Linked DNA regions of Homo sapiens. The protein of the gene in region 2 interacts with the protein of the main gene of each other region in a biochemical or structural test. Each region holds a gene or a part of one and is shown on either strand. Other genes may lie near its edges.

Region 1 (8,013 bases), on a different chromosome or scaffold from region 2:
ATGAATAGTAACAACACTGAGGGCACCTACTGGGTGCCCAGCGACCGCTCAGTCCTTTTGTGCATCACCCATTGACGTCTCATAGCCCTAGGAAGTAGCCACCCTTAGTGTTACTGGGGCTCTTAATCCTACCTATTAGGCTATTAAATTTTTGGACAAAAAGAACTTACTCACCTTTTTGGGGGCCCTTCTATAACCTTAATTCCACACCTTGCGTAGGGCTGGGCTCAATAAATAGGTGTTGAACTGAGCAGATGTTTTAATGCAATTCGGTAACTCTTATGTCTCTGTGTTCTAGGTGAAGATAACTGAGGCTCACAGAAGTTAAGAAACTGGTCCGAGTTTACACAGCTGGGAAGTGGTGGTGCCAAGATTCGAACCCATGAAGACGGGCTTCAAAAAGCCACCTTCTCAGTACAAAGGGGACATCAGTATCAATCCACACCCACCCCTTACAGACAAAGGGACAAGAGACATCGGAGAGACAGGATGATGGGACCAGGCATTCACCACCCAGGGAAGCAGAGTGATTTACAGTTTGTTGTCATTTTCATCAGTACAATTAATCCCAGTGGTTGGTTGGGTAAGGATTAGTGATGGTAAACGGAGACTGAGTCATTCTCCTAAGTTGTCCCCACAAGGGACTCCCAGCCTGTCCCTCCAAACAGACCTTTCAGGCGGAAGCAACTGCCATTGAGTGAGCACCTTCCTGGCCCACACCCTACCCTAGCACCGGAAGCAGGTTTCATCTCTGATCCTTATAACAACTAGTTGAGGTACGTGCTATCATAGCTCCATTGCAGATGAGGAAACTGAGCCTCAGGAAGACCACTTGCTCAGGGTCAATAGGTTAGTAAGAGGTCTATGCTTGTAACTGCTGCAGCCCCAACTGGGCACTTTCTAGATATTCAGTAATTGCCAAATAAATTTTCGACCCCACCCCACCAACTCTTTGTCATCTCTCTGCCCCTTACAGGCCCTGGCAACAGGCCCTTCACCATTAACAAGCCCCCAGAGATATGAATTGTCCACATGCTATAAAATACCTGCTCAATTTCACACCTATTTATGGAGCCCCAAGCTTATGTAAGGCCTGGAATTAAGGACAACAGAAGGCCCTCTCCCAAAAGATGAGTAAATCCCAACTATTCAAAAGCTTGTAAGCTAGTAGGTAGGTTAAGGAAAAACACCCCAATGGGTATAATTACAAAGATTTGGCTTGGCGCGGTGACTCATGCCTGTAATCCCAGCACTTTGGGAGGCCGAGGCGGGCAGATCACGAGGTCAGGAGATTGAGACCATCCTGGCTAACATGGTGAAACCCCATCTCTACGATAAATACAAAAACAAAAATAGCCGGGCGTGGTGGCAGGCGTCTGTAGTCCCAGCTACTTGGGAGGCTGAGGCGGGAGAATGGCGTGAACCTGGGAGGCAGAACTTGCAGTGAGCTGAGATTGTGCCACTGCACTCCAGCCTGGGCAACAGAGCAAGACTCTGTCTCAAAAAAAAAAAAAACAAAAAAAAACCAAAAACAAAGATTTTAGATCACTTACACCAGGGTATTTTCATCCACTGTGTTCCATTTAGGCCTTATAATCTAACTTTAATGATGAAAATATACTCAATCCAGTAAAAACCAGGAAAAGAGCAAAATGGAAACAAAGGGAAAGCATGATAAATAGGGCACTATGGTGGAGTAGGTTCAAACACATTAGTCATTACAATAAATGTAAATGAGTTAATTTTGCCTATTAAAAGATAAAAGACTCTCCGGTGAGATTACAAAACACACACCTTCCCCAAGCTATATGCCATTTTATAAGACACACACACTTGAAACTAAATGATACAGGAAGGTTGAGAATAAAGAATGGAGAGTGACATACCAGGCAACTGATACTGAAGAGAGAAAGCACTGTCCATATATCTCAAAGACAAGAGGGAGCGAGGCAATCCATGTAACTATGTGGTTCCCAACAGCTGCACATCAAAAGAATGATGTCTGGACCCATGTCCATGGAGATTTTGACTTAACTGGTCTTGGAAAGGGCTCTGACATGCTGTTCAAAACTCCTCAGGTGATTCTAATGTACAGCCAGGGATGAGAACAAGGAACTGAACCACAGCAAGGTTTAAAAGAAGCAAGATGCCGAAGAATCCTAGATCTCTATAGGAAGGAAGCCCTGTGAGAAAGCAGTACACAGAATGTGCCCAATGAATACCAGATTGATTGGTCAATTGACTGATTCTCTCACTACTAGAAACTCCTGTGCTAATTAGACAGTAAATGTCCTCACACCCAGCTATTAATCCTGTGGAAATATATCCTAAGATGAGAAGGTTGCTGGTGTAGTAATTCCAGGTCTGTTTTTAAGGCCTAATCTGTTTCTGCCCAGGGAAGGCCGCCCTGCCTCCAGGCCTCTGATGGGGCCTAGGGTTCTGTGTCAGGTGAGTGCTTTTGGGCTCCTTTTACAAACATACAGAAGTTCAAGCTGCTTCAGGTAACACCAAGGCAGGTCTTGAAGACAGGGCAACACAGCAAGACCCTATTTCTACCAAAAATAAATAAATAAATAAAATTAGCTGGGCATGGTTGTGCATGCCTCTAGTCCTGGCTGCTCAGGAGGCTGAGGTGGGAGGATTCATAGCTCACTGCAGCTTTGAATTCCTAGACTCGGGGGATAAACAGGGCTCAAGCCAACTTTGGTGCCCCAAGGCATCAGGATGTCACTCTGGGTTCAGGACCACTGGAGAAAGAGCACCAGCCTCCTTTTTCATTTTTTGAGACAGAGTCTTGCTCTGTTATTCAGGCTGAAGTGCATTGCTGCACTTCACTCACTGCAGCCTTCAACTCTTGGGCTCAAACACAAAATATATTTTGTATTTTTAGTAGGGACAGGGTTTCACCATGTTGGCCAGGCTGGTCTCCAACACCTGACCTTAGGCCTCCCAGAGTGTTGGGATTACAGGCATGGGCCACTGTGCCCGGCCATCTCAGCAGTTCTTACCCAGACACTTTGAGAGGGCTGGCAGGGTGTCCTGGCCGCCCCGCCCATCCTTTCCTAGGCAGAGGGTTTTTGTCATGCTTTGTAAGATAAAACACACCAGAGCTGCTGGCTGAGCCTGCAAGGCCGCAGGGCTGTGGGAGAAATAGAACTTGCAGAATTTTTTGCTGCCCCCACTGCCTGGGCTAGGATTTCAGGCTGATACCTTTTAGGGTTTCAAATTCTCTGCCTTCGCCATGGCGATGGTTTGTTTCCCATCGAAGGGTGGGAAAGGATTCCAAGTTTGTACCACAAAGAAGAGACAGGGCTTCAACCCTGCTTCAATCTCAGATAAGAAACTCTATTTGGCTGGGAGCAGTGGCTCATGCCTGTAATCCCAGCACTTTAGGAAGCCGAGGCAGGTGGATCACCTGAGGTCAGGTGTTTGCGACCAGCCTGGCCAACATGGTGAAACCCCGTCTCTACTAAAAATACAAAATATAGCCAGGCGTGGTGGTGGGCGCCTGTAATCCCAGCTACTTGGGAGGCTGAGGCAGGAGAATCACTTGAACCCAGGAGGCAGAGAGGTTGCAGTGAGCTGAGATTGTGTCACTTCACTCCAGCCTGGGCAACAAAAGTGAAACTCTACCTTAAAAAAAAAAAAAAAAAAAAAAAAAAAAAAGATCTGCCGAGAGTCCTGGAGCGAGTCACTCAAACTCTCTGAGCCTCACTTGGAACGAGAGCTGAGGGTAGAATTTATCTCAGACAATGTAATAATCATAATTTAGGGTGATGGTTTTAAGCTAGCACCCAACCTCAAGGCCTTTCTGTGTTCATACCTTTCCCAGTTCTGGTCCCCTCCCCTCTCACTTCCTTGCAGAGACTCTCCATTTTTGTCTCCCCATCCAGAACCTGCCTGCTTGCCTTCCAGGACTGGGCCCCCTTTGCTTCCTGAGGTCCCTCTTCTTCCTCTCCCAGACCTTTTATTTTGCTATGGACTGGACTCTGAGACCCAGGACTCAGGGCTTGCCTGCAGGCTCTTCCCACGCTGTGCCCCCCGCCAGCTGTGCCCCACGCCAGCTCGCCTTCTCTACTCCACCCTTCACCTAAACTGGAAAACTCGTGATCTACTCAGACATGCAGAAAAGTACTGAAAAGAATCAGCCACGCATGTCCCCACCACCACGGTTTGGTTGATGTTTTCACAGTACCATCTTTGCTGCAGATTTTTCTAAAAAGGAAGAGAAATGTTATTGTTCATTATCCTTTCAGGCCCCTTCTTAGGAGTAGCAGAATTTTAGATTTACTGGTTCTTCCTAAGCCTGTTTTATTTTATTTATTTAGAGACAGGGTCTTGCTCTGTTGCCCAGGCTGGAGTGCAGTGGCACAATCACAGCTCACTGCAGCCTTGAATTCCTGGACTCAGGGATCCTCCCCTCTCAGCCTCCTGAGTAGCTAAGACTAGAGGCATGCACCACCATGCCCAGCTAATTTTTTTTTTTTTTTGGTAGAAATAGGGTCTCACTATGTTGCCCAGGCTCGTCTTCAACTCCTGGCCTCAAGTCATCCTCCCGCCTTGGCCTCCCAAAGCGCTAGGACAAGTGCGAACCACTGCACCTGGTTCCCTAAGCTTTCCAATACATAGACACATCTGCATTCAGGAAGAGTAAGTGGAATTGCTCTGTGTATGTTTCTAAAAATGTATATATGCAAGCATCATCTTTGCATCCTTCATCAACTTGCTTTGCTTGCTCACTGTCATGCCTTTTCGGGTCGTGGATACACACATCCCCGTCACCTTCTGTCAACTGCACTCTCTTTATCCTCTCATCTCCAACTGATCCCCGGGTTCGGCGTGGAGGACCTCTCCTGAAGAAGCCTGTGTGGCTGGGTCAGGGCCCTCCTTTATCTCACTATCACTCCGCATTGCTGCCAGCTGTGTACTCAGCCAACTCTCTGCTCACCGTCCTGCACGCAGGAGGTGACTGGATGGGGACAGGGCAGGGGGCAGCCTGCTCAGGCCTCGCACTCCTTTCCACTAGCTGGAACCCCTGCCCCATTCATCCCCACCTCCGGGCTCTGCTGGTCCTGGGGTGTGAAGCGCAGGGCAATGTATGCTCTCTTGAAATGCTGAGGGAAGGGGAGAATCTTAGCAGTCCCCCATGGCTTACTCTCATTCATTCATTCATTCAGCACGCGTGTAGCACCAGTGTCTGGGGGAAGGCAGCCACACAGCCACATGTGGCTACCCCGGAGTCACATAGCTGCTGAGATAAGAGCTACCAAGGAGAAGGGGAGTCCATAGAATAGGTGGATCTACCCCAGCAGAGAGGTTGGGGAAGGCTTCCCTGAGGAACAGAAGGTAAACCTGGAAGTGGAAGAGAAGCAGTGAAAAGGGGTGGGAGGGGCATTCTGGGCAACAGGAATGGCAGAGGGAAAGGCCTTGTGGCCGGGCACAGCGTGGAAACAAGACGGTGACAGGCACATGTTGATGTGCAGGGCACCAGCTCCCAGGGCCTAAGAGCAAAGAGAGGTCTGGGGCAGGGGTTAAGCAGCTGGAGGTATGGTCAGATTTATGTCGTAAGGAGCTCCCTGGCTGCCATGGGGAGAAGGGACTGGAGCGCTGGAGTGGAAGAAGGAACAGTGAAGAGGGACTGGAGGCCTGCTGGGCTGCTGGCTCTGCAGGCAGGGAGAAGTGGGGATCCATTTAAAGGGAAAGGGCCTGCGTGCAGTGGCTCATGGCTGTAATCTCAGTGCTTTGGGAGGCTAAGGCAAGAGGCTCACTTGAGCCCAGGAGTTCAGGACCAGAGTGGGCAATATAGTGAGACCCCATCTCTACAAATATTAAAAATTAGCGGGGCACGGTGGTGTGCACACCTGTAGTCCCAGCTTCTTGGGAGGCTGAGGCATGAGGATTGCTTGAGCCCAGCAGTTCAAGGCTACAGTGAGCTATGATCGCACCACTGCACTCCAATCTGGGTGATACAGTGACAGCCTGTCTCTAAAGAATAAAGAAAGAACACTTAAAAAAAATAGGTTGGGGTAGGGAAGGGCAGGGCTGGGACCTGAAGAGAGCTTTGTCCCACCCGGAGGCAGAAAGGGGCACCAGGTGGCCTCCCGGGCTCCAGAGGCTGCAGCACAGCAACCCATCAGAAGCCGGGAGAACAAAGACCAGAGGCCGTTTCCCCATTCGCTCCCAAGACAGGCCGGGGCAGGCAGGCTGGGAGGATGCAAGGTGGTGCCGGTAACACCGGCACAGACCTGCCGGGAGCAGAGAGCAGCTGCACGCTGGGAAGCCAGGGTTCTCTTCCCCAGACGAGGAGCTTTGGAAGCTCTCTAAAGCAGCTTCTCCCCCAGGTCCCCTACTTCCAGGGCCTCCCCCAACCACACCCTTAGGGTATTGCTTAAAGGGTGTGGACGGAGCTGAGTCTCTCCCCCAAAATACCCTTTCCCAACATGATCCGCCCGACAGTGCCTGAAATGCTACCATTAGCAGCTGTTCCTCCAGGTAAGCTCAGCTCTGTCCTGAATCGAATTTATCCAGTCTCATTCCTTCTTCCAAGAGAACTGGGCAAGGGATGGAGGGGCAAAGCTAGAGAGAAGAGAGGTAGAGGGGGTTGCTGGGGGTAGAGGCAGTGAGCACAAACACCAATGACTCTACCATTTGGCCTGGAGCAGTCCCCAGGCACAGTTGCTGCCAGATCCAGGTACGAGTGGGGAGGCCTCATTTGCTTCCCCAGGCCCCCCTGGACTTCCAGCATCAGCCATTTGTGAGCTGTGAGCTCAAGGTGAATGTGAGCCCTCTGTGAAACAGGACACTTCCACCTGCATGGCAGGCCCGCTGTCAGAATGAGATGTAACATCCATGGCCTTGCTGGGCTCACAGTATGTGCCTGAGAAATGGCGGGGCGGCTCTCTCTAAGCTGTTACCCACATGGGTCCCCTCCCATATCGATCAGGCGTTCCTACCAACACTGATCGATGGGTGCATGTGCGTGTCTGCTTGAGTCAGCTCCCTGGTCAGCTCTGGGCTTGGCTCAGTCATGAATCTTTTTTTTTTTTTTTTGAGACGGAGTCTCGCTCTGTCTCCCAGGCTGGAGTGCAGTGGTGTGATCTCGGCTCACTGCAATCTCTGCCTCCCAGGTTCAAGTGATTCTCCTGCCTCAGCCTCCCCAGTATCTGGCTGGGATTACAGGTTTCCGCCACCACACCCAGCTAATTTTTAATATTTATTTTTGTAGAGATGGGATTTCACCATGTTGGCCAGGCTGGTCTTGAACTCCTGACCTCAAGTGATCCGTCCGCCTTACCCTCTCAGAGTGCTGGGATTACAGGCGTGAGCTACCGCGCCCAGCCCGTCATGACTCTTAATAGCAGTGTGTGCTTCCTAGTATTGGCTGCTATGATTTGCCGGGCACTCGCTCTGAACCAGGTCATGGGCTGGACCCATCATGTGCATCCCCTCATTTGATCTACCCAGCAGCCTCACCAACTGGGGGTTGCTGTTGTCACCCCACCTCATAGATGAAGAAACTGAGGCTCGGAGACATTAAGTGACTTGCCCAAGATCAAACAGCTTAAGAGACCCAGAGCTGCGGCCTGAACTCATGCCCAGCTAGCATCAAACACTGTGTTCTTGCTTTTTTTTTTTTCTTTTTGAGACAGAGTCTCACTCTTTTACCCAGGCTGGAGTGCAGTAGCACAATCTCAGCTCACTGCAACCTCTGCCTCCCAGGTTCAAGGGATTCTCCTGCTTCAGCCTCCTGAGTAGCTGGGACTACAGGCACCCACCCCCATGCCCAGCTAATAAAACACTGTGTTCTTAACCACTAAGAGGCTCAGGGTACCCCAGGTGCCTCCCAGTAGAGCATGCTTCCCTTTTGCCAGCTCTCCCCTCAAAGCCTGGGGTCCTGCCTCCCATGCAGGAGCGCTCCATCAGGGCGGCCCCAGTGTTGCAAGACCCGTCTAGGCAAGGCCAGGCTGCTGGGTGTTTACTGGGACCCAGGTCTGGGTGGAGGGGCAAGATTAA
Region 2 (7,206 bases):
GAATTTTCCTGATTTTCACAACGCCCCTGTCTCCCAAAAGACCAAGGGCAACCTCCCTTTTGCCTTCATCCTCTAATTGTAAGTCTTTTCCTCACAGGTATGAGGATGAGATCAATAAGCGTACAGAGATGGAGAACGAATTTGTCCTCATCAAGAAGGTGAGGGAGTCTCCCTTCTCCTATCTGGACACTGGAGGCTGGGGCTCAGAGACTCAGACCAAGAAGCTTTCTGGGTTTTGTCCCTAAATATTCCTAAGTAGTGGGACAAACTCATTTATGTAAACATTTGGGTGCACAGAAAGGTAGACAAGGATGGAGTGGTAGGTGCATTTGGACAGAACTCTTGACATCGGTGTTGGGACATGGTTCAGAAAACAGAGCAGTAGAACTGGAGATCTGGCTCTAGAAGGCTCCCTAGAGAAGGAGGTGGAAGAGGGTGTGTTGCAGGAAGCAGAGGTGAAGGTGTGTGGGCTGAGAATGCACATGTGATGGGCAGAGGCTGGGCTGGAAGATCAATCCACAAAGTGGGCAACTAGAAAGTCCTGTGACCAGGCCATTGGGTGGACCTTGGGAGCCCCTTGGTTGGGGTTGGGTGTGGAAACCCAGCTCAGGCTCCCCTCTCCTCATCCCCCAGGATGTGGATGAAGCTTACATGAACAAGGTAGAGCTGGAGTCTCGCCTGGAAGGGCTGACCGACGAGATCAACTTCCTCAGGCAGCTATATGAAGAGGTATGTTCCTGGTCGCAGGAGAGTGAGGGTCCCCCAGCCTTGTCAGCGCCTCCACCCTGAGACTCAACCAGAGGCTCCTCCCAGCCCCCAGCACACTAATAAGACAAAGGCCCACTGCTGACTAATTACAGCCACCAATATTTGCTCGGCTAGTATTTATTGGGTCTATATGTTCTGTCCCTCGCATGAGGGATGAGTCATTACCCCATTTCACAGACGAGAAAGTGGGCTCAGAGAAGTGAAATAACGTATCCAAGGTCATCATAGGGTGTGGTGATTCAGCAGCAACTCTGTCCCCAAAGCCCTTGTTCCTAATCTTTGAGCTGCATTGGATCCCTCTGTGCACCTAGTATTGGTGCACCCAGTTCCTTTTTCAGGAACTTTGCCCTCTCCCTGACCCTGACTCCCACCTGCTCCTCTCCTCTGCTGCCCCTGTCTTATACCCTAAGAAAGGCTGTTGTGGAAAAGGGGGCTCCCTGTGTGCAGAGACAGGGCCTCACCACTTGCCCTCTTCCCCCACAGGAGATCCGGGAGCTGCAGTCCCAGATCTCGGACACATCTGTGGTGCTGTCCATGGACAACAGCCGCTCCCTGGACATGGACAGCATCATTGCTGAGGTCAAGGCACAGTACGAGGATATTGCCAACCGCAGCCGGGCTGAGGCTGAGAGCATGTACCAGATCAAGTATGAGGAGCTGCAGAGCCTGGCTGGGAAGCACGGGGATGACCTGCGGCGCACAAAGACTGAGATCTCTGAGATGAACCGGAACATCAGCCGGCTCCAGGCTGAGATTGAGGGCCTCAAAGGCCAGGTATGGGCCGGGTTGGGGGTGGGAGGGGTTCCTTGGACACATCCTGGTGAGAGGAGATAATGTAGGAAGAGTGAAGTTTCTGGGAGTCGGGGAAGGAATCCTAGACCAGGGTTCAGGAGTTGGAGGGGCAGCCACAGTTCAGCTTCTCAGTCTGCTTCTGAGAAGCAAAGGGATGCAGGGAAGGTCCCTTGGGCCAGGACAGAGGTGAAAGGGGACTGGGGCAGGTATGTTGGGGCTCGTGATACATGCTCCCAAGCCTGCTTTAATCAGTCATATGCATCAGGGTAAGGTTGAGCTCTGCTGCTTTAAGGAAAGTCTAGAACCCAGGGATCTAGTCCAGTTAGGGTAGGGGGACCTTACAGTGTCGCAGGTGAGAAGGGTGTGGAGGGGAAGCACCTGGAAACTGCTCATGTCTCCCTGATCTGCTTCCTTAGTCTCGTTTATTTATTTATTTATTTTTGAGACAGAGTCTTGCTCTGTCGCCCAGGCTGGAGTGCAGTGGCGTGATCTCGGCTCACTGCAAGCTCCGCCTCCTGGGTTCACACTATTCTCCTGACTCAGCCTCCTGAGTAGCTGGGACTACAGGCGCCCGCCACCAGGCTGGCTAATTTTTTTTGTATTTTTACTAGAGACGGGGTTTCACTGTGTTAGCCAGGATGGCCTCGATCTCCTGACCTTGTGATCTGCCCGCCTCGGCCTCCCAAAGTGCTGGGATTACAGGCATGAGCCACTGTGCCCGGCCCTTAGTCTCATTTAATTTGAGCTGGGGGGAGTCAGCCTAGGTGGTGGTGGGGAGGACCCTGAGGGAGGGTGGGAGCACGGGAGAAGAGAAGGCATACCCAACCTGACCTACTTACCTGTCCCCTACCCCACAGAGGGCTTCCCTGGAGGCCGCCATTGCAGATGCCGAGCAGCGTGGAGAGCTGGCCATTAAGGATGCCAACGCCAAGTTGTCCGAGCTGGAGGCCGCCCTGCAGCGGGCCAAGCAGGACATGGCGCGGCAGCTGCGTGAGTACCAGGAGCTGATGAACGTCAAGCTGGCCCTGGACATCGAGATCGCCACCTACAGGAAGCTGCTGGAGGGCGAGGAGAGCCGGTGGGTGTGGGTACCTCTGACCGGACCTGCTTCCCTATCCCTGGGACCTGGGGTGGGGACGGTGGGAGCCCCCTGAAGCCCCTTGGGACTTGGGGTCCTGTTGTTCTGGGCCAAGAAGGGCTAGGAGTTGGTCCTGACACCCCATTTGTCTGGGTACAGGCTGGAGTCTGGGATGCAGAACATGAGTATTCATACGAAGACCACCAGCGGCTATGCAGGTGGGTGTCCCAGGGCCCTGGGATGAGGGCGGGAGGCAGGGCCCAGGGAGGCCTCAGCTCCAGGGAGGGGGCTGTGCTCAGTCGCTCACAGTGACCTCAGCCTGAGCACTCATGTTCTTGGGAGAATCCTAGGGTGGGGAGGCACATATTCAGGACCCCAGTAATAACTTTATTACTTAGTAACTTTACTATTAGAAAGCACCCAAATAAACCATAGCTGTGTGCCAGGCACTGTGCTAAGTATCCTACAGGTTTTATGTGATTTATTTTATTTATTAATTTAATTTAATTTTTTTGAGACGAAGTCTCGCTCTGTCACCCAAGCTGGAGTGCAGTGGCGTGATCTCAGCTCACTGTAACCTCCACCTCCTGGGTTCAAGAGATTCTCCTGCCTCAGGCCTCCCAAGTAGCTGGGACTACAGGCGCATACCACCATGCCCAGCTAATTTTTGTATTTTTAGTAGAGACGGGGTTTCACTGTGTTGGGCAGGCTGGTCTCGAACTCCTGACCTTGTGATCAGTGCTGGGATTACAGGCATGAGACACTGGGCCTGGCTGTAATTTATTTTTTATATGACACCTGTAAACGTCTTCAGTTGAGGAAGCTGAGGTGCAGCTAAATGTCCAAGGTCACACAGCTATATATATGGCAGCTGTTTTCCACCCTGCTCCTGGTTTTCCCTGACAGTTCTGGAGTAGTGAACCATGCAATCACTGATCAGGCAGAGCTGGGTTAACCTCCCATCCCTGGGGCTATGTTGGGAATGAGCAGGGAGAAGGGGCATGGAGCCTGCCATGGGGTGGGCTTCTGTACTCATGTGGCTACCTCTGTCCCTCACCAGGTGGTCTGAGCTCGGCCTATGGGGGCCTCACAAGCCCCGGCCTCAGCTACAGCCTGGGCTCCAGCTTTGGCTCTGGCGCGGGCTCCAGCTCCTTCAGCCGCACCAGCTCCTCCAGGGCCGTGGTTGTGAAGAAGATCGAGACACGTGATGGGAAGCTGGTGTCTGAGTCCTCTGACGTCCTGCCCAAGTGAACAGCTGCGGCAGCCCCTCCCAGCCTACCCCTCCTGCGCTGCCCCAGAGCCTGGGAAGGAGGCCGCTATGCAGGGTAGCACTGGGAACAGGAGACCCACCTGAGGCTCAGCCCTAGCCCTCAGCCCACCTGGGGAGTTTACTACCTGGGGACCCCCCTTGCCCATGCCTCCAGCTACAAAACAATTCAATTGCTTTTTTTTTTTGGTCCAAAATAAAACCTCAGCTAGCTCTGCCAATGTCCTTGCTTGTGTGTGCATCTGATGTCCACTGGGGTGGGAGGGAGGTGGTCAGGAGGCCTCTTCTTGGGACTGAGAAGCTGGGAGGGGTCCAGGAAGCAGGGGGTGCACAGCGGGAAAGTCTGACCCCCTCAGCTGTTCCTAAAGAGGCTCCTTTATTGAAACCTGGTTGAAACCTTGCTTGTTGCCATAGATATCTACACCTGTATAATAGTCATTGACCTGTGCACAGTGCTTTCTGGTTTACAGTGTGCTTTCAAATCCCAAGGTTCATGTGATCTGTGCAGCAAGGCTCAAGAGGCAGGCAGAGCAAGTTTTTGAGGGCATTATCAGCAGAGAGCTTAGTGTGCTTCCCCTACACCTTGGCATCAGGACTATCTGCATATAAGGAAAGCCAGGCTCAGAGAAGCCAAGTAGTTGGCTCATCTAGAAACTAGCAGATTTGGCATTGGAACCCAGAGCTGTCCAGCTCTCAGGCTTGTACTCCTCCTTGGCCAGGCACATGGCCTTTCCTTGTGGCCAGACATGTCTTTTTATCACCTTCAATCTTTGCAGTCAGGGACTAAGGCATCCTGGCTTTTCCATCCCCTCAGAGGTTCAGAGTCTATTCTCAGCCATTGGGTGTGTCATACCCACAATTTCTAGAAGCTAGAAATTGTGGGACTTGGCCCTTCCCCACTCCACTCAGTCACAGCCACCACCCCCTTCCTATCCTTTTTACAAGCTGTGTGTATGATATAAAGGGCGTGTGTGCATTCTGTGTTTGCATGTGGAGGGTGTACTGTGTGTGCATGGGTGTGCACAGTGTGTGAAGGGGTCTGCCTGACTCTTGAGACAACCTCCAAGGTTCAGGGCAGGAGGGGTTAGGACACAGCTGGGTGGGGCAGTGCATCCCCACAGTCCTGCTCCACTGCCACAAGCACAGAGTTCCAGGCAGCCACCCTGTCCATTCAGCATTGGGCTAAGTGCACAAGCCCTTAGCACGACTGAGATGGGGGCATTTCCAGACTTTCTGAAACACCAATGGAGATTAGACAGAGACAGGCAGAGGGTACTGTGAGTGGGGACAGGCTGGTGCAGGAAGCTCCTGTCAGGCTCTGCTGTGCGGTCTCTCTCCAGGGCTCCTGTCTCTGGGTCCTCAGCTTCCCAGCCCCTGGGCTCCCCTCTGAGGGCCCCATCTCTGCACCTCCCTAACTACCACACAGTGCCTCCCTAGCTACCCACATCGATGGAGCTGGGCTTCCAGACTGAGCCCAGGAACCCCCCACTGCCAACCCCTCCCACTCAGCCCCAGGGCCAGGCCCAGGGATTTGCACACTGTCACCTTAGAGGATCTCACTCTTTGGTAGTACTCATTAACAGCACCATTATCCAGAGCAGGGGATCTATTTTGGCAGTGGTCCACAGTAAGAAATTCATTTTATCACCACCTGCAAATATGTATATATACATATATATAACTGAAACAAAAATTTCATGAAACAATACCAACCTTCTGCCTTCTGCTCACATGTAGCCTGGCCCTCAGCAAGAATCAGGTGGGTGGTGTAAGAGCCCAGCGCAGTCACAGCACCCAGTGAGAAGGATCTCTTACCATGGGTGCCCTAAGTCAATATTTTCAATTGTGCCCCTCCCAATCCTCCCTGAAGCCAGTCACCTGTCTTATCTGGCCCTGTTCCCAGAAGCAGGCATGCTGGGGGCAGCCGGGGGCCCCACCAGATAGTCTCCTGGGAGTTTCCACGCCCTGGGTGTTTGCTCAGGGAAAGGCAGGATGGCTCCAGGGAGAATTCCCTTTCCCTCCCTCCCTGCTTGCTCCTTCCAGGTTCTGGTGCATCTACCATGGGATCAAGGTCACCCAGCATTAAGGGGACACCATCCCTCCCATTTATCTTTCAGAAACTACACAGACAGAAGAGCTGGAAATCCAATGGTCATTTAGATGAGGAAACTTAGGAAGGACAGGAGCTGACATTTCTTAAATATCCATTTCACCTGCTTGTGTGTCATCTCATTTCAAGTCTCCAACGATCCTGTGAGGCAGGACTTAAAACCCCATTCATGGAGGTAGAATCAGTCTAAGCTTATGTAAGTGGTGTCCTGACTCTTGACAATACTAGATTTTTTTTTCTTTTTTCTTTTTCTTTCTTTCTTTCTTTCTTTCTTTCTTTCTTTCTTTCTTTCTTTCTTTCTTTCTTTCTTTCTTTCTTTCTTTCCTTTCTTTTTTTCTTTTCTTTTCTTTTCTTTTTTTTTTTTTGAGACAGAGTCTTGCTCTGTCACCCAGGCTGGAGTGCAGTGGTGCAGTCTCGGCTCACTGCAACCTCTGCCTCCCGGGTTCAAGCGATTCTCCTGCCTCAGCCTCCTGAGGAGCTGGGACTACAGGCACCCGTCACCACGCCCGGCTAATTTTTTGTATTTTTAGTAGAGACGGGGTTTCACTGTGTTAGCCCGGATGGTCTCCATCTCCTGACCTCCCAAAGTGCTGGAATTACAGGCGTGAGCCACTAAGCCTAGCTTTTTTTTTTTTTTTGAGTGATGGAGTTTCTCTCTTCTTACCCAGGCTGTAGTGCAGTAGCGCGATCTCGGCTCACTGCAACCTCCACCTCCCAGGTTCAAGAGTTTCTCCTCCCTCAGACTCCGAAGTAGCTGGGATTACAGGTGCCCACCACCACGTCCAGCTAATTTTTTGTATTTTTAGTAGAGACAGGGTTTCGCCATGTTGGGTAGGCTGGTCTCGAACTCCTGACCTCAGATGATCCGCCCACCTCGGCCTCCCAAAATGTTGGGATTACAGGCGTGAACCACTGTGCCCAGCCTTTTTTTAGAGACAGAGTCTCATTCTGTCACCCAGGATGGAGTGCAGTGACACAATCTCGGCTCACTACAACTTTTGCCTCTTGGGTTCAAATGATTCTCCTGCCTCAGCCTCCCAAGTAGCTGGGATTACAGGTGCCCACCACCACGCCCAGCTAATTTTTGTATTTTTAGTAGGGACGAGTTTTCACCATGTTGGCCAGGCTGGTCTTGAACTCCTGGCCTCAAGGAATCCGCCCATGTCGACCTCCCAAAGTGCTGGGATTACA
Region 3 (8,013 bases), on a different chromosome or scaffold from region 2:
ACCAACATGGAGAAACCCCATCTCTACTAAAAATACAAAATTAGCCAGGCATGGTGGCACATGCCTGTAATGCCAGCTACTCGGGAGGCTGAGGCAGGACTTGAACCCAGGAGGCAGAGGTTGCGGTGAGCCAAGACAGTGCCATTGTACAACAGCCTGGGCAACAAGAGTGAAACTCTGTCTCAAAAAAAAAAAAGTTCTGAGAAGGGATTTTGATTAAATTCAGCATTTAACAAAGCTTTTATGACTGCAAAAGCCTTTTTATACAATATTCACTCTGTACCCAGGTCTAGTTCTTTTTTTAATCAATTCTGTTTTAAAGATGAATATTTTGTGACATTTATTCTTTCTTTAGAAATCTTCCAAAGAAGGCCAGCTGCGGTGGCTCACACCTGTAATCCCAGCACTTTGGGAGGCCAAGGCAGGTGGATCACGAGGTCAGGAGATCGAGACCATGCTGGCTAACACGGTGAAACCCCGTCTCTACTAAAAATACAAAAAATTAGCCAGGCATAGTGGCGGGCGCCTGTAGTCCCAGTTACTTGGGAGGCTGAGGCAGGAAAAAGGCATGAACCCAGGAGGCAGAGCTTGCAGTGAGCCAAGATCGCGCCACTGCACTCCAGCCTGGGCGCCAGAGTGAGACTCCGTCTCAAAAAAAAAGAGAAAAGAAATCTTCTAAAGAAGAAAATCTACTTTTTCTTTAATAGAATAAACTCATTCTATTCTGTTTGCAATTATCATATGGGTCCATTGAACCCTTTCATAAATCTGATACATTATGGAATCTTAATCTTATTTTTCCTAATTTTGGTATTTCAGCATCCTAGGAATCCTTTCACATTATCAATCATTCCCAACTATCCTAACAAAAAGACTAAAATGCAAAGCATGGTAGAAAGACCTTTCATGTAGAAACATGAAAGAATGACATGAAATAATCACTAATGCATAATCCTTCGGTTTTCTTTCTGTACTGCTCAAAGTATTACATCATCTTTCCAGAAGGCATTAAAGAGTCCGCAGATACCTTCTTTGTAGTTTTCCTTGAACACAGTTGAGAAATCAGAATTTTTCATTTTTCACAAATAGAAAAAAAAAAAGGAAAATTTAGACAAAGCAGAAAATAAATGCAAAAAGGCAGATAACCATTCTAGACTGAAGGTTCTCCACCTAGGCAATATTTACATTTTGAACCAGATAATACTTTGTAGCAGGAAAGCGTCTTGCACATTATAGGATGTTTAGTAGCATCCCTGGTCTCTATCCAGTAGATGTCATTAGCATCTGCTACCCCTCACTCCCTGGTTACAACAGCTGAAAATGTCTCCAGGCATTGCCAGATATCACCTGGGAAAAAACTCTCCCCAGTTGAGAACCAGTGCTCTGGACTCTAATTATAATGATGGTGAAATCAATCCTATAAGCAATAAATCAGATTATGATTTTCAGATGATGTACCATATGAATGGTCTCACTGAAAAAAAGGAATGAACAATATATTTCTAAGGACAAAAAGAAAATATGGTGGCCAGGCACAGTGGCTCACACCTGTAATTCCAGCATTTTGGGAGGCCAAGGTGGGCGGATCACGAGGTCAGGAGATCAAGACCATCCTGGCTAACAAAGTGAAACCTCATCTCTACTAAAAATACAAAAATTAGCTGGCTGTGGTGGCGAGTGCCTGTAATCCCAGCTACTAGGGAGGCTGAGGCAGAATTGCTTGAACCCAGGAGGCAGAGGTTGCAGTGAGCCGAGATCACGCCACTGCACTCCAGCCTGGGTGACAGAGTGGGACTCCATCTCAAAAAAAAATTAATTAAAAAAAAAAAGAAAATATGGTATCCTCACTTAGTCATTTATTAGGAAGGACTTCAAATTACATTATTTCATGACAAAAACCTGGACATCCTTAAAGAATGTGTGATAATATTCTTCCATCTTTTATGACGTTTGTACACCAAAATTTACTTAATATGGTTCATAAGTGGACAAACGTTGAAGGCAGGTACATATGTTAAAGTACTTAAAAGGAAACAGATGATGTAAAAATGAAAAAAATTCATTAAAATGTTTTGCAATTACAGAGCATGCAATTATGAAGAAAGGTCGTCTTTTCTTCAACCAAATTACGACTCTCAAAGTTCTCAAATGTATTTGAATTTGGTAATATGTGTACAGAAGTAATGATAAGCCAAGACTTATCAGTGGTGTATTTGAGATCTGGAATTAGTATTGCATTTTGATGATACAAATACAAGAAGAACCAGAAGTAATTACAAGCTAGAACCTATTAGAAATGTATCTAAAATCTAGTATCAGTTATTTACACGATGCACATGTGCCAGATTCAAGCATGACAACTGACAAGTAAATACAGTTGACCCCTTGAACAACACAAATTTGAAGTACACAGGTCTACTTATAAGCAGATTTTCTTCTACCTCTGCCACCCCTGAGATAGCAAAGCCAATCTCTCTTCTTCCTCCCTCTTTTCAGCCTACTCAACATGAAGAAGGATGAAGACCTTTATGATGATCCATTTCCACTTAATGAACAGTTAACATATTTTCTCCTTATGATTGTCCTAATATTTTTCTCTAGTTTATCCTAAGAATATAGTATATAATACATATAACATACAAAATATGTATTAATTGGCTATTTGTGTTATTGATAAGACTTCCAGTCAGTAGCAGGCTATTAGTAGTTAAGTTGTGGGGAGTTGAAAGTTATACTCAGATTTTCAACTGAGCTGGCACTTGGTGCCCTTAACCCCCAACATTGTTCAAGGGTCAAAAGCAGTTACAGAGGACACTGACATATTTGAGCACACATTATCTTCAACTTGGAATACATGGAATTAAAATTTGGGTTTGCAGTGTTCAAATTCTTAGTAAAATTTCCAGTGAAGTTAATTTTCACTATCCTTTATTCTTTCGTCTGCACATTATTCACAAAAGGGCTTTAAAATATTTTTTAAAGTAAAAAGAATCCATTATACTTAAATGGTAAATGGCGATGACTAATTTTTCTAGTATATTCAGGGTTATCATAATACTGAAAACACTGCCAAAGATATACTGCCTACACATTACTGTGCACCTACTGTATATACGGCAGCGGTCACCAACCTTTCTGGCACCAGGGACTGGTTTCATGGAAGACAATTTTTCCATGGACCGAGGTTGGGGGATGGTTTCGGGATGAAACTGTTCCACCTCAGATAATCAGGTATTAGATTCTCATAAGGAGTACACAACCTAGATCCCTTGAATGCACAGTTCACAATAGGGTTTGTGCTCCTATGAGAATCTAATGCTACTACTGATGTGACAGGAGGCAGAGCTCAGACAGTAATGGTCGATCACCCACCACTCACCCTGCACTGGGCGCAGCTCAGTTCCTAACAGGCCATGCACCAGAATCCGCACCCCAAGCACTGGGGACCCTGATATAAGGCACTCCCAGGTATAGAAATTTAAAATATGAAAATACCATGATCTCATGAAGTTTAATATTTACCATGTAGCATGAGATGTGTACTTTGCAGTAACAATAACTTGAATGTCAATAAATCAACCAATAAAAGAGGGTATGATTTTCTTGGTTGTGTGTGGTAATTAGAAGCTATGTGTAGATATGATATACAAAATAACACTACAAAAGTGAAAATGAATTAGAGTTAATCAAATAGGATGAATCTTAGAAACAGAGCTCAGTAAAAAAACAAAAAGAAAAAAAGGCCATATATATGATTTTTAAAATAAGCAAAATGAAACATATATTGTAACTTCTACTTCCACAATGACGAAATAGCTTCTATAGGACTAAAACTCCTACTGAGAACTAGAAAAACTCAATTTAAAGAAAACAAACAAGCTGTTTAAAAGTAGTAAAGAGCAACTGAGTGCTTGAAGGGCAAAGATCTCAGAGAGAAAGCAAATATACTGAGGCAAAGTCAATAGTCTCTACTTCTTTCTTCCTTGGGAGATTTTTAGACCCTAAACTGTGCTGTGACAAGCTAAGAAACTAAACAGAGAGCAACAGGTAAGAGCCTAAGAAACTAAGTAAACCCTCTGAAAGTACTCCTATGCTAGGGGGCCAAAATTTGGAGTCCAGATTCCACCACGAAAGAGATGGGCCTGGTAAACAACCCTAGCTTTAAGTCAAGATCTCCAAGGGACTATGTCCTAGGAGCATAAGAATAAAGGGAGGAAAAAAAAAAAATAGAACAGGACATACAAAAAAAAAAAAAACAAAAATTAGTCTCTAATCATATCAATGCTAAATTGGATTAAGGTTATCCATCCCTACATTAACTGCCTTCTGAAAGAAAATTAAATTCTCTCTGAAAAAAAAATAGCATCGAGAGCTTAATAAATTTTTACATATTATGTCCAACAATCAACTAAAAAAAAAAATCAAGCATGTCAAAAGGCAGAACCAAACACCAAGGGAGAAAAAACAGAAAACAAAATTTACCCATAGATAATCAAGATATTGGAGTTATTAGGCACAGTCCTTTAAATCATCTGTGATCAATACATTCAAAGAAAAAAAAGGTAAAGAATTTCACCTGACAACTAGAAAATAACAAGAATGAAGATAAAATATAAATTTTATAACTTAAATAAATAGATAACTTGGTAGGCTTAAAAGCAGATTCAATGCAGCAGAAGAGAGACCTGGAAGTTAATCTGTGGAAAGTATCCAATTTAAGCATAAAGAAAATCAAAGTAGGAGAAATACAGGAAAAAAAAAAAGAGACATGGGATGTAGTAAAAAGATCTATGGGATGGAGTCTCAGAAGAGGTGGGAAAACGGTACAGAAACATTATCTGAAGAGAAACTGGCCAAAAATATTTCAAAATTGACAGAAGACATCAAGCCACAGATTCAACAAATGCTACAAACCCCAAGCCAGATAAATATTACACTCAATCAAACCTGGACACACGGAAAAAATACTAACAACCAATGACTTAAAAAACAGCGAGAGGAGGATAAAAGACATTTTAACTTCAAAGAAGCAATAATAATCCTGAGAAATGATATTTTTAAACAGAAACCATGGAATCAGAATATCTTTAAAGTGTTGGGAGGTCAGGGGAACCAATACCTGTAAACTTAGAATTCTACACCCAGCAAAAATATTCAAAAATGGAGGCAAAAAAAAGACATTTTTCAGAGACAAAAAAAACTGAGAGAATGTATCATCAGCAGGACCTCACTAAAAGAAACACTAAAGACAATTCTTTAAGCAGAAGAAAAGTAACTCCAAAGATAATGCTGGAGACCTACAGGAAAGAAGGGCAATAGAAACGGTAAATATATAACAACAATAGCATATAAAGACTCTTAGTGTTTAAGGTCCTAATATTGTCCAAGAAGTGATAAACATATTATTCTAGTAAGCCAATGATGTATGTTATAATTTCTAGGATAACCACTAAGAAAATAATTGAAAAATGTATAACTAACAAGCCTATAGAGAATAAAAGCAAATAGGAAAGCAACAGATTAATCCAAAGAAGACAAGAAAGGAGAGGAAAAAAGACAAATACTAAGGCAATAGAAACTACCAAAACTGTAGATTGAAACACGAACATATCCTAACTACCTTAATAAAAAACGAACTATATACTCCAATTAAAAGACAGTTTTATCAAACTGGATTGAAAAATTAAAATTCAACTATATGCTGTTTTACAAGACACATGACTTAAATGTAAGTATACAAAAATGTCTAAATGGAAAAGGATATACATGCAAAAACTCATCGAAAGAAAGCTGATATAGATACAGTAGAGCCTAGGGCAGGAAACATTACTAAAGATAAAAAGACACATTATATAATAATAAATGGGTCAATCATACAGGAAAATGTAATAATTTTAAGTATGTGACCGCTGAAAGACATGGCCTTAAAACATACAAAACAAAACACAAAAGAGCATATACTATATGATTCCATTCATTAAAAACTTCCAAAAGTCAGCATACTGGTTACCTTTGGGGAAGTGTATTAATTTGGAGGGGGCACACAGGAAGCTATGAAGGTGCTATGAATGTTGTGTTTCTTGATCTGGGTAGTGGTTACAAAGGCATGTTCATTTGTTAAAATTCATAAAATCATTTGCTTATAATTTCTGTTATCTTTTGGTAGGTTGGTTATCCTTCCTTAAAAACAAACTATATTTTAAAAAAACAAAAAAAACAAAAAAAAAGCAAGAAAGTGATTTAAAATATTCAAGACAGTGATTACCTCCAGCAGGGACAAGAAGAAAGGACTGAACACGGAACACCTTGGGCTTTGACAGTATTGGTAACATTCCTTTCCTAAACTCGGTGGCTTATTCACTGTACTGTACTTTAGACACACTTTACATACATGCTTTAATATACATCTAAAATACTCGAGATTTTTAAGAAAGAAAATAATTCCTTATACACCGACATGTCAACAGTAGCTTGTCTGTGGTTAGGCTCTGGTTATTTTATTTTTATTATTTCTACTTTTCTGTTTTTTCCAATTTTTATAAAATCACCTGTATTTCTTGATAATTTTTTAAATACTAATTTTTACAAAGGAAAAATTTATCCCAATTCTCTACCTCAGTTGCCCATAAAACACTTTATATAAAACATATTTTATAATCCAAAGGTAAAATTCTAAATAGTTATACAATAATTGATGGGTAAATTAAATTATTAACAAATTATGAATAAACTTTTTAGAATGGATATGTTCTATAGCTTGATTGTGCTGATAGTAAAAGAGATACCGGTATTTATCAAAACTCACTTAATTGGACACTTAAAATGAATGTATCTTATCAGATGTAAATTACACCTTAATAAAGTTGATTTTAAAAACTATTATTGCATATACATTAGAAGCAATTAGATAAGAACACTTTACATACAGTACCTACAAATTCCACAGTTTTCACAGTGATACTGCTTCTTATCTTTGTCAAACAAATGGCATATATCGCAATAATATTCTCCAAACAATGTGCTACATTCTTCACAAGTCTGTTGGGCCTAAAAAAGAAACATAATTAAAAACTGCAATAAACTAAACATTTTGAGTTACCATTTGAATATCTAGAACTTATGTTCAACTATATGCAGTTTATTTTTATAAGTTTTGAAACACCTAAACCAAAGATATTGCTTATTCTAGAAGTTAAAGAAATCTTATTTATGATACTTTTGATTAAATTTTTTCAAACCACCTTAATACAGCTTTTAAAAAGAAAATAGAAATGTCATAAAATCTTACATGTTGAATTTTTTCACAGTTTATGCACTGCACTTCCTTCACTTTAAAGCGATCTAGTTGATGATCTTCATTGTTATCATGACACAAGCGGCAAGTATAAAGCTTGTCACAGCAAGGTGCCTAACACCCACGGAGAAAAAAGAGATATAGTAAGAAGCAAAAGAAACTAAGTGTGCAATACAAAAAGAAAATTTCTTCCTCCTCCTCCTGGATGGAACTGAAAGATTACAACCAATAGATCAGTTGCTAAACTGATCCTAAACATAACATTTCACTAGTTTCTTGGCATATTTTATGTTAATTCTTCCCTTCAACATCACTACGTCTGTATGAAGTTGAACACAACTTTAAAACAAAAGAATTATGAAGGAAATCCCTAGATTGAAACACTAATCCCACAACACCTGATATGCTTTGGCTGTGTTCCCACCCAAATCTCAACTTGAAATGTATCTCCCAGAATTCCCACGTGTTGTGGGAGGGACTTAGAAGGAGGTAACTGAATCATGGGGGCCAGACTCTCCCGTGCCATTCTCGTGATAATGAATAAAATCTCATGAGATCTGATGGGTTTATCAGGAGTTTCCACTTTTGCTTCTTCCTCATTTTCTATTGCCACCACCATGTAAGAAGTGCCTTTTGTCTCCCGCCATGATTCTCAGGCCTCCCTAGCCATGTGGAACTGTAAGTCCAATTAAACCTCTTTTTCTTCCCAGTCTTGGGTA
Region 4 (5,580 bases), about 57 Mb from region 2:
TGCCTGTGTCACTGATAGCTCACCCTGGACGGAGTGACCTCTTCAAGTCTCCGGGTCTCACAAGCCACCACTTGGCTGGATGTCAGGACTCAGTAAGATGAGGCCTGTAAAGCACCCGGCACAGTGTCCAGCATGCAGTAAGTGCTCAATGTATGCTACTTATTATTTGATGATTTCAATCTACTAGTTTAGTCTTTAGGACCCAAACTCAGTTTTATAGATGTAAGCAGCATTCAACATCTCTATAATAACTTCCTTCTGGCTGGGCATAGTGGCTCACGCCTGTAATCCCAGCACTTTGGGAGGCCAACGCTGGCGGATCACAAGGTCAGGAGTTCAAGACCAGCCTGGCCAAGATGGTGAAACCCCATCTCTACTAAAAATACAAAAAGTAGCCGGGTGTGGTGGCGGGCGCCTGTAATCCCAGCTACTCGGGAGGCTGAGGCAGAGAATTACTTGAACCCAGGAGGCAGAGATTGCAGTCAGCCGAGATCATGCCACTGCACTCCAGCCTGGGTGACAGAGCAAGACTCTATCTCAAAAAAAAAAAAATAATTTCCTTCTAAACCTCTAAGATTTCAGATGAACACATCGTTACTCTAAACCTTAATGATTTCCACCTCAGATAATACAAGGGAAACACCCCCAGAGGCCAGGTCCATTATGAAGATGTGCTCCTCAGGAATGATGGACAACATACACAGCTATCTCTTCTTCTTCTTTTTTTTTTTTTTTTTTTTTTGAGACAGAGTCTCGTTCTGTCACCCAGGCTGGAGTGCAGTGGTGTAGTCATGGCTAATCGGAGCCCCAACCTCCTGGGCTCAAGTGATCCTCCCACTTAGCCTCCCGAGTAGTTGGAACTACAGGTATGAACAACCACGCCTGGCCAATTTGTGTATTTTTGGTAGAGCCTGGAGTTTTGCCATGTTGCCCAGGCTGATCTCAAATTCCTAGGCTCAAGCGATCCACCTGCCTCGGCCTCTCAAAGTGCTAGGATTACAGGTGTGAGCCTCCACGCCCAGCCAATAGATATTTCAGTAACAGGTGACCCATGGGGCATTTCAAGGTATCAGAGTTGAGGCCAGGAGCATCCAGCCCAGTCAGCAGCTGCCACTCACCTCAGCAGCATCTGCAGCTCTGCCTCCCGCGCCCGCTCCAGCTGCAGCTGCTCCTCAATGGCCTGCTTCATCCAGGCCACATCGGCCATGACCTGCTCCCGCCTGGCCAGGTGGAGGCGCTGGCTCTCGTCCTCCTTCTCGAGGAGGGCCTGCAGGATCCGCCTGTCTGCCTCCTAGAGGAAGCAGAGGGCGGCACGTGGCTGGGCTGGACAGAGTCCTTCTGCAATGAGAGCCTACAGAGGGGCCTGCCCTCCCTTTCCTTTCTACATAGACATTCGTGATTCTACACAGTGTTCTCAAGACAGAGATGGGAAGATCCTGGATTATTTCTGGAACAGACTGGGGATAATCACGAGGGGTGGTTCAGACACTGCACAGGCCTAGGAGCTTCTCTCTGGCTAAAGGGAGACCCAGCCACCACCACATGCCCTCGGATACACCTGGTTGCACAACTTTTTGGAATACAACTTGGCAAAAATCCCACTTATAAGAACAAAGACCACAGTGACACAAAAGTGCAAAACACTCGTTGCAGCTTTTAGGTAAGAGGGAAAAACCAGAAACAACCAAAATGCTCCTTGGTGGGGAATTAGCTACTATGTACATCAACATAATGGAAGCATTAAAATAATGCAGGAGGCTGGGCACTGGGGCTAATGCATGCAATCCCAGCACTTTGGGAGGCTGAGGTGGGAGGATCACTTGGGCCTAGGAGTTCAAGACCAGCCTGGGCAATGTAGCAAGACCCCATCTCTACAAAGCATTGTGATGTACACCTATGGTCCCAGCTACTCGAGAGGCTGAGGTGGGAGGATGGCTTGAGCCTGGCAGGTTGAGGCTGCAGTGAGCCGTGATTGCGCCATTGCAATCCAGCCTGGACAACAGAGCAAGACCCCATAAAAAACAGCTGCACACCAGGACCAACCATGCCACTGTGCCCCATGTCCTGCCCTGACCGCAGTGGGCAGGGATGGGAAGGGCAGCTTAGGTCTGTCTCCCTCACTTCAAGGGAGCTCATCAAAGTACTTAGGAATACAAAGGAGCTATCTGAAAAGAACAGGTTCAATCTAAGCATAATGACCTTTTTTTGTTTTTTTGAGACAGAGTCTCACTCTGTTGCCCAGGCTTGAGTGCAGTGGTGCAATCTCGGCTCACTGCAACCTCCACCTCCTGGGTTCAAGCAATTCTCCTGTCTCAGCCCCCCGAGTATCTGGGATTACAGGTGTGCACCACCATGCCTGGCTAGTTTTTGTTGTTGTTGTTCTTGTTTTGAGAGAAGTCTCGCTCTTGTCCCCCAGGCTTGAGTGCAACGGCTTGATCTCAGCTTATTGCAACCTCCACCTACCAGGTTCAAATGATTCTTCTGTCTCTGCCTCCCAAGTAGCTGGGATTAAGGCGCCTGCCACCACACCCGGCTAATTTTTGTATTTTTTAGTAGAGACAGGGTTATACCACATTGGCCAGGCTGGTCTCAAACTCCTGACCACAGGTGATCCGCCCGCCTCAGCCTCCCAAAGTGCTGGGATTACAGGTGTGAGCCGCCACGCCCGGCCATGTCCGGCTAGTTTTTGTATTTTTAGTAGAGATGGGGTTTCACCATGTCATTCAGGCTGGCCTCAAACTCCTGACCTCAGGTGATCCGCCTGCCTTGGCCTCTCAAAGTGCTGGGATTATAGGCGGGAGCCACCGCACCTGGCCGATCTTTTTAAAAATTAAGAGATTTAGTGTTAATTGAAGATGCTGAGGAATGCAACCTCAATTAGATTTAAATACAAAAACAAAAACCTCCACCTCTCTGTATGTAAATACATCTAGAAAGATGTGAACTAAACAGGCACCTCTGGGGATAGACAGAGATTGCAGGTGCTGGTCAAGGGGGTGATCTCACTTTGTGTTGTGCTGCTTTTTAAGTAACACAGTTACTGAAAAATAATTTGATGTTTTGATACCTGTATCTATCCATCTATGTATACACACAGACACTGGGAAAGGATCCTTACGGTCAAGCTAATTAACATATCCATCACCTCACAGTTGGTTTTCATGGTGACAACACTTAAGATTGGCTCTCTTAGCAAATTTCAAGAATACAATATGGTATCATCAGCTGTGATCAACATGATGGACACTACTCCCAGATCTCCCAACCGAGGGATGTATCCTTTGACCAACATCTCCCCTTTCCCCCAACCCCTCACTGTCTTCATTCTTACGAGAATGCACTCATATACTAAGCAATGGAAGGCCTTTTTTACAAAAGAGGCTAAGAAAGATGTCAGGCTGTCTCTTCAGACTTACCAGCTCCTCTTGGATCTGCTGTGTGCGTCTGCTGAGTTGAGCGTTATACTGATGTCTCAAGAAACGCCTGAAGGAGAATCAAATGTGGGCTGCCTTCAGTATCTCAGAAAGAATTAAATAGAAGTTAGATAACTGCTGACCAGGCTGTCTCCTTTATGGTTTCAGCAACACGAATGCAAGTCTGAAAAAGCAAGAGGCCCACCCGCCTGGGAAGAGTGGGGGGCCCTTCTGACACACACCCCAGCTCTGCCTTCTGCCGGAAGGCTTCCATCTGCTTTCGCTCTTCCTCCAGCCTCTCTAGCTCCCACCGCTGCTTCAACAGATTCTCCTGCTCCTTCTTTAGTTTGGTCGCCTGTGGTGATGATGAGAGTAAGCTCGACTGAGATCTGAGATCGTGGGAATCAGATCTTCCTTCATTCTCCATCTCCATTTTTCGCAGACACTACACCAACAGAGGCCTGGCCATGCAGGTGGTCACGATCCCCTCCCACCACTCACTTACTCATCCAATCCCCTCTGAGCCATTTCCTGCAAGGGCCTTTCTGAGCCCTGAACTCTAAACTCCCACAGGATCCTGTACTGGTCCACTCTTACTGTAACTTAACAACTGTCCTCCACCTGACACAGCCCCCACCAGGAGGTCAGGACTGTGGGCCTTGGTCAGGCTCTATCTCTAGTTCCCAACCCAGTGCTCAGCACCTAGAATAAGCAGTAGGCACTAAGAATGTAGTTGCTAAATCACGGCCTGGGCAAGGGGAAGTGAGGTCACAGGAGCATGGGCCTCCCTCTTCTAAATAGAAAGATCTCTTTCAAGGAAACTGTGCCATGTTCTCCAAAAACAGCCCCTGGACCAAAAACCCTCAGTTATGCCTCGAGACCCGAAACCTGCTCCCCACGGAGAGCTGGGTGCTAGACCACCCGATTAAATTGTGTCTACTCAGTGCACTGGAAAATCCAGATTCTAAGAAGGTTCTCCAACAGCAGGCCGCTAACCACCTCTAAGAGAACAGCTACTGGCTCCATGTCGTTAATGTTCTGGAATTCAGGCACGCAAACGAGGAGGATGGGAAAGCACAAGGCAGATGGGGATGCATGTGAGAGGGAGAACCCGGCTGCTGCCGCCCTTTGCAGAATCTCAGCCCTGCTATGGCCTCTTCTTAGGGCAGCCTCTCAAGTGCCCATCTCATGCTAACGAGCAGCTGTGGAGGAGGTCACGGCTGAGAGGGGCTTGTGCCCACCTCCACCTCCTTCAGCTTCAGCTCCTCCATCTGTTGCAGCAGTGCCTCGGCCTGGAGCTTGTCCTCCAGCTGCCTCCTCTCCTCTTCAGCTTTCATCCTTTCTAGCGCCTCCCTTCGGGCCCTTTCATATTCATTTTCATACCGTTTGTTCTCTTGCTCTGCGGTGGCTTCTTGCTACAAGGGACCAAATGAACACAGGTCAATATCTGTACCGTAAGCCAACAAAAACCTAGCTTCCTGCCGCCGTTCTGCAGGCCACAGGGCCCAGGCAGTTCCTGCCTGAATCCCAAATGACAACGCCCTCAGACGCCAAGTCAGGGAGGGACTCAATAATGTTGGGTTTCCTCCCCACTCAACAAAACACTTTCTAAAATGAACCAGGCAGCAAAGCGACCAGTGCACAGAGGTGTGGAAGCTTAACCCCAAAGGGGTTACAGTAAGCCAGGGCTGCGAGTTTACGATGCAGATTTCATCAAAAGAGAGACAAAAATGCCCTTAAAGACACACGTCCTAGCTGGACCCTGTGGCCCACGCCTGTAATCCCAGCACTTTGGGAGGCCGAGGTGGGAGAATCGTTTAAGGCCAGGAGGCCAGACCAGCCTGAGCAACAGAGCAAGACCCCATCTCTACAAAAATTAAAAAATTAGCTGGGCGCAGTGGTGCGTACCTGTGGTCCTAGCTACTCGGGAGGCTGAGTTAGGAGGACTGCTTGAGCCCAGCCAGTCGAGGCTGCAGTGAGCTGTGAGTCGCGCCACTGCACACCAGCCTGGGTGACAGAGCAAGACCCTGCCTCCAAAAGAAAAAAAGAAGACGCGTGCTGTATGTGCCACCTCCCAGCCCTGGTCACCTGGCCTTATTCTGCCCTGGGAATTATCACATAGGATTCTGGTATATGTAAGAGCAAACATTCAGTTTTCACATGTGTC

The links.
Region 1: the proteins of KRT8 (region 2) and PPL form a complex in vitro, tested with the Homo sapiens proteins (one study listed by BioGRID).
Region 3: the proteins of KRT8 (region 2) and RCHY1 form a complex in vitro, tested with the Homo sapiens proteins (one study listed by BioGRID).
Region 4: the proteins of KRT8 (region 2) and TCHP form a complex in vitro, tested with the Homo sapiens proteins (one study listed by BioGRID).

The regions. Positions count from the first base shown.
Region 1 is NC_000016.10:4,925,378-4,933,390, forward strand, and holds part of PPL (periplakin), read right to left. Parts: intron 552-8,013; exon of another isoform or gene 299-551; intron 1-298. UniProt on the Homo sapiens protein: Component of the cornified envelope of keratinocytes. May link the cornified envelope to desmosomes and intermediate filaments. May act as a localization signal in PKB/AKT-mediated signaling.
Region 2 is NC_000012.12:52,894,111-52,901,316, reverse strand, and holds the end of KRT8 (keratin, type II cytoskeletal 8), read left to right. Parts: intron 1-97; coding exon 98-158; intron 159-633; coding exon 634-729; intron 730-1,251; coding exon 1,252-1,542; intron 1,543-2,332; exon of another isoform or gene 2,333-2,417; coding exon 2,418-2,638; intron 2,639-2,797; coding exon 2,798-2,856; intron 2,857-3,698; coding exon 3,699-3,889; 3' UTR 3,890-4,126; downstream 4,127-7,206. UniProt on the Homo sapiens protein: Together with KRT19, helps to link the contractile apparatus to dystrophin at the costameres of striated muscle.
Region 3 is NC_000004.12:75,501,889-75,509,901, forward strand, and holds part of RCHY1 (RING finger and CHY zinc finger domain-containing protein 1), read right to left. Parts: intron 7,409-8,013; coding exon 7,289-7,408; intron 7,048-7,288; coding exon 6,932-7,047; intron 1-6,931. UniProt on the Homo sapiens protein: E3 ubiquitin-protein ligase that mediates ubiquitination of target proteins, including p53/TP53, TP73, HDAC1 and CDKN1B. Mediates ubiquitination and degradation of p53/TP53; preferentially acts on tetrameric p53/TP53.
Region 4 is NC_000012.12:109,906,774-109,912,353, reverse strand, and holds part of TCHP (trichoplein keratin filament-binding protein), read right to left. Parts: intron 4,829-5,580; coding exon 4,655-4,828; intron 3,769-4,654; coding exon 3,656-3,768; intron 3,484-3,655; coding exon 3,417-3,483; intron 1,292-3,416; coding exon 1,119-1,291; intron 1-1,118. UniProt on the Homo sapiens protein: Tumor suppressor which has the ability to inhibit cell growth and be pro-apoptotic during cell stress. Inhibits cell growth in bladder and prostate cancer cells by a down-regulation of HSPB1 by inhibiting its phosphorylation.